Linked DNA regions of Homo sapiens: region 2 is linked to region 1. The links come from fine-mapping of genetic effects on gene expression. A gene starts in region 1. The other region holds a variant in brackets. All regions are shown on one strand. Distances are from middle to middle.

Region 1 (3,025 bases):
CCGATGATGCTTGACCAGCACTTTCAGTAACACTACGATTCTCTACACTGCAGCCAGAGGACTTTTCAATATGCAAATCTAATCGTGCCATTCTTTTTTAAACCCTCCATGGTTTCTCAAGTACTCTTAGGATAAAACAGAAAATACTTAAGTAGCACACAGGACCCAATCTGTCATCCTTTGGTCTCATTTGAAATGTCACATCCTTTGAAAAAGTGTTCTTTGACTTTCCAAGACTAAGTTAGGTCTCTGAATGTTTCTTCTGTGGCACTTAATTATTTATGTCTTTCTCCACCATTAAATTCTAAATTCCAGGAGGGTTAGAACTTTCTGGATCCTTAGCACAATGTCAGGTAATTAGGAACTCCGTACATATTTGATGGATGAATGAACAAAGCACTACATATGCATGAACTAGTTTAAAAACAGAAACATCACAAGATTTTTTTTAAGTGGCAGCTTTTAATAAAAGTACAGTTCGTAATAGGTAGGGAAAAAGGTCAAGGATATAATTTCTACATACTAACATATACGTTGTTAGGTATATAAAATATATAAAATCAGGACTGGTGTCACTTAACTTTTTAATGTGTCTTTTCTTCGGGCACGTGGCAGGCACTTGCAGAGAAGGTAAACATTTACAGAGTACCTGTTATTTTCCAGGCATTGTTCAAAGTGCTTTCAAGAGTTCTGGTTTGACAGAACTAAAGAATTTTGATTTTTCTTCCAGCAAACAAAAGAAAACCTAGGTTCTTTTTATTACTCTATTCTAGTAAGAACAGAAAGGTTATCTTTTGCACTTTAATTAACATCGCTTAATTCCATGGCTATCAAAGATGACTCAATTCCTCCGCAGAATTACTATGTGACTATTAGAAATCTAAATGCCTCCCATGTCAATTCATCTAGTGAGAATTTCCTAATTTTAACGGGAACACAGCAGGCTTTTACGGTGATTGCTGATTGGGAAGATCTCTTTCTCCCTTACGGCGTCATTCATGTCAAGGCCCGGTCTAACAGAGGAATAAAACAGTAGAAAATTACGATATCCTCCTGTTACTTTTTTTTACTAAGGGGTAATGACCAAACAGTACTTGGATTTCTTTTAGAAAATGAGTAAAGCTTCCCCGAAAGCAGAGAACAATTGGGCAGATTTGAGAAACACAAAGGACATACGATGCTTCCCTGCTACCAGCTGGGAAAGTTATTAGAATTAGCAGAATCCTCCTGTTCCTTCCACACAAGCGATAGCCACAATAGGAACTCCAGTTTCCGTCACCCCCACTCCCTGCCCAGGTTACCTGTGGAAGCTGATGTTAATGTGCTTGTTGTAGGTAGTGGCACAGCCCGCCGCAGCGCAATTGGTCGGCATTTCCCTTTCCCACTCATTCAGCGCCCTTAGGTCTCTACTGAGGCGCTGGCTGCTAAGCTTTCTTCTGGCAGAGGCTGGACAATCGAGGCAGGCGTGCCTTAATCGTGAGAGCTTAGTCGTGAGAGCGGAGTGGGAAGAAGGGGTGTGTATGTGGGGGCGGAGGCGAAGGACGGTCAGCCTTCCCTTTCTCTTTATTAATATGGCCGACTAGAGCCCACAGAACTGGCCCTCCTGGAGCTCTAGTCGCCTTCGCTTGACTTCACCAACATGGCGGACACAACCCGTTCTTTCTCCCCGCCCCCAAGAGGGAGCGGATCTACTGCGTTTCTTTGGCAGCGGTCCTCAGAGCAATTAAAAGGAAGAGGTGTTTTCCCCTCCGATTACTATAAATTACAAGAGTTTTACAATAAAACTCTCTCAAGGCTGCAACAGCAGCTCCACCTACTTCTGCATGCACCCAACTGTACCAAGCCAGACCCTGCGGTGGGTGTGACCCTAGGACCGGAAGAGTAAACCCGAAGAAAGACGAAAGACTACAAATCCTAGTGAGTATCGAGTTGGTCTTATTATCGCGTGAACTGGGAGCCTTTGTTTCCTGCGTGTCGCAGGAAGTGACGTTTCGGGTACAGCCGCTACCAGAGTCCCTTTCTCGCGAGGCGGAAGAACCCCGATCGCTGAGGAGCAAGGGGGCGCTAGGAAAGGGAACTGGGTTGCGACGGTCCGGCGAGAGAGAGCTGGGGTGCTGGGGTGCGGGGAAGTTGGGGAGCAGAGGCCGCTTGGTGTCCGAGTAGGGTAAGACCGCACCGACCCAGTCCGTTAGGAAAGAAGGGAAACGAGGCAATTGTCGGGCGGATCCCCGGACGGAGGGCTAAGGTTGTGTGGAAGGCGCTGCTCCCCGGATGGCGACCGCAGATACTCCGGCCCCGGCCTCCAGTGGCCTCTCGCCGAAGGAAGAAGGGGAGCTTGAAGATGGGGAAATCAGTGACGACGATAATAACAGCCAGATACGGAGTCGGAGCAGCAGCAGCAGCAGCGGCGGCGGGCTGTTACCCTATCCGCGGCGAAGGCCTCCTCACTCGGCCCGGGGCGGTGGATCTGGCGGAGGCGGTGGCTCTTCCTCGTCATCGTCCTCTTCTCAGCAGCAGCTGAGGAATTTCTCACGCTCGCGGCACGCGTCTGAGCGGGGCCACCTCAGGGGACCCAGCAGCTACCGACCCAAAGAACCGTTCCGGTCTCATCCGCCTTCTGTACGGATGCCTTCGAGCTCACTGTCCGAAAGCAGTCCCCGGCCGTCTTTCTGGGAGCGGAGCCACCTCGCCTTGGACCGTTTCCGCTTTCGAGGCAGGCCTTACCGGGGTGGGAGTCGCTGGAGTCGGGGGCGAGGAGTGGGTGAGCGAGGAGGCAAGCCGGGGTGCAGACCTCCTCTGGGAGGAGGAGCAGGATCCGGGTTCAGCAGCAGTCAGAGCTGGCGAGAGCCCTCTCCACCTCGGAAGAGCTGTATCCTTAACGTGGCGGTCGGCGCTGGGTGTGTCACTAAAGTTCCCTTTAGCGTCATTACTAGGTCTGTGAGACGAGTGTAACTTTGAATCATCAGAACCGCTTATTTCTCCCTGTGTCAGTATACTTTAAGTTGTTCTTTGGTAATTCCCCATG
Region 2 (2,500 bases), 87 kb after region 1:
CTGGCTCTGACAAGCTCTAGGCATGGAGAACACAGAGGCAGGTAATCTGTGCATATCCAGCTTCTTCAACAAAACCAACTTTTAAAATTAACTAGATGGTCCTCAATTATTAAGAGACATACCATAAACAAGTTGTGGAATACTCACAGCTTTATTAGGGATGGCAAAGTGGAAAATGCATTGGGGTGAATAATAGCAATTTTGTTCCAAGCCAAATTCCTATTGTAAAAAAAGGCAAATGAGAGAATTATATAGAATAAAGAACATGTGAAGTTTTATCATATGCATTTAGTCTTCTACCAAAATTAATTTAATTTCCATTCAGATCAGAAACAATTAACTTATCAAACTGCCCTTCAGATTATCATATTAGTGGTATAAAATGACTAATGAGAGAACTTTAAATCAAGCTTGTTAAAACCAATCAAGGAAACATCGTTCAGGTGGATATTTTGGTTTTACTCTTGCTAAAAGGTTGACTTTAACATGGTTGTAAAATTTTATTAGGGCCTTTCTAAAATGAGTGGTTGTAGCACTGTGGGAAGGGACAGAAACTTCTGAGTCTCTTCTTCTGACAAGTAAGTGTTAAATTATAAAATGTCCTTGGATATGTAATGAAACTCAAAAAAATTTGGGCACATCACTCATATATGTTAGGCCTTGAAAGAAACACAAAGATGCTTTCAAGAAAATTTCCAGGAAGGATACTGACAAGTAAATTATTAGCCAGGATATGAATAAAATAGGGGCCAACATATGTTAGAAATAAAATTCTTTGATAGTAAAGAAAAAGTACAGTTTATGGGGAAATAAAATTCACTTCCCATGGACAAGTAATGAACTGCAGATAATTAAGTAGGAGTAAAGCATTTTGCAAAAACTTCTGTAGATAATTTATCAGGAATAAGAACTACATTTTTAAAAAGGAAGGATGAATTTAAGATTTTTAATTTTTGTAAATGACTAACAATGGTAACTAAGATGTAGGCATTTGAGAGAACTGAAAGTAAACAAAGTCAACTTTTCTTAAGTGTAGAAAAGTTTATGATATTGGGCTCCAGGGTTACCTTAATAAATGGTATTCACAGAATATTTACATTCTCATTTGAAAGGTTCCTTAGGGACCTGTCCTCCTTTCCTGGAGGAAACTGGAAGTCTTTTCCTTGATCCCAGAACAGAAGAAAATTGCAGCTAACAAGGGGAGGAAACGTATGGAAGGTAGAAAAGCTACAAATGGC[G/A]GCTGGGCTTTGGGTAATTGAGTGAGAAGACTGTCTTCTGTTGAGCTGCTCAAGAAATACGTGTCACTGAGGTGAGCAAGTAATACCATCTGTCAGAGTCTTTTTGGCAGCTTTAAGTAGATCATGGTGCCCTGGGAGAGCTTCACAGAGCAGAATATCTGGAATGTAGGCCAAGTCCTGCCATGGTGCTTAGAGTGATTTGGCTGGGGTTTAAGTAAATATGTGAGAATTTATATGTTCAAAGGCCTGTAATTCCTTTTCAATTCATGAGCCCGTGCGCTGGAATCCTCCCAGCAGCCCCAGAGGAGTCATTTTCTGCTTTGTGCCTGGGGCTGATCCTGCAGGCTGCATCCCCAGAGCTCCCTAATGGCCTCAGTTGTTTTCTCAGGAGAAGCCCCAGAAGGAAAGGGAGGTCAGGGCCCTCATGGTCTTCTCTTCCCTGTTTTGGAATCATGTCTTTCATGGCAGCTACAGACTTCTCAAGGGCTGCAACACTTCTCCATGCTTAAGCTCTTTCTTTGTCCTGGAAACATCATTTCCTCCCTGTGACTCTAGCCCCAGATGTTACTGGTTTCTGCACACCCATCCTTTGCTTGCTCCCTGCCAACACCTATGTAAGTGTCTTTTCATTTGAACCATCTTTTAAAAAAATTTAATTTAATTTTAAGTTCCAGGATACACGTGCAGGACATGCAGGTTTGTTACATAGGTAAACATGTGCCATGGTAGGTTTGCTGCACCTATCAACCCATCACCTAGGTATTAAGCCCTGCATGCATTAACTATTTATCCTGATGCTTTCCCTCCCCCTGCCACCCTGATAGGCCCTGGTGTGTGGTATCTCTCTCCCTGTGTCCATGTGTTCTTATTGTTCAGCTCCCACTTATAAGTGAGAACATGCAGTGTTTGGTTTTCTGTTCCTGTGTTAGTTTGCTGAGAATAATGGCTTCCAGCTCCACCCATGTGCCTGTAAAGGACATGATCTTATCCCTTCTTATGGCTGCGTAGTATTCCATGGTGTATATATACCACATTTTCTTTATCCAGTCTATCATTGGTGGGCATTTGGGTTGATTCCATGTCTTTGCTATTGTGAATAGTGCTGCAATGAACATATGTGTGCATGTATCTTTATAATAGAATGATACACACACACACACACACACACACACACACACACACATATATATTTTTTGAGATGGAGTCTCACTCTGTCGCCCAGGTTGGAGGGCGGTAGTGCGATCTCAGCTCACTGCAAACCC

What was found. PIP is the estimated chance that this variant, and not a neighbour inherited with it, causes the effect.
Region 2: its variant is the best candidate, but not a certain one, in a credible set for the expression of THAP2 in whole blood (INTERVAL, PIP 0.66).

The regions. Positions count from the first base shown.
Region 1 is chr12:71,662,857-71,665,881 of GRCh38, reverse strand. It overlaps THAP2 (THAP domain containing 2), which reads right to left and starts at 1,581. Exons shown (of 3, transcript NM_031435.4): 1 at 1,302-1,581. The coding sequence starts at 1,372. It overlaps ZFC3H1 (zinc finger C3H1-type containing), which reads left to right and starts at 2,034. Exons shown (of 35, transcript NM_144982.5): 1 at 2,034-2,869. The coding sequence starts at 2,272. RefSeq lists enhancers at 1,572-1,931, 1,381-1,939, 2,292-2,411.
Region 2 is chr12:71,575,644-71,578,143 of GRCh38, reverse strand. It overlaps LGR5 (leucine rich repeat containing G protein-coupled receptor 5), which reads right to left. Exons shown (of 18, transcript NM_003667.4): 14 at 148-219. LOC124902963 (a long non-coding RNA gene) reads left to right here. Exons shown (of 3, transcript XR_007063365.1): 3 at 1,113-1,201. Among named protein-coding and RNA genes, the nearest start is that of ZFC3H1, 87 kb to the left of the region's middle. The variant G/A (reference allele first, on the strand shown) is at 1,239.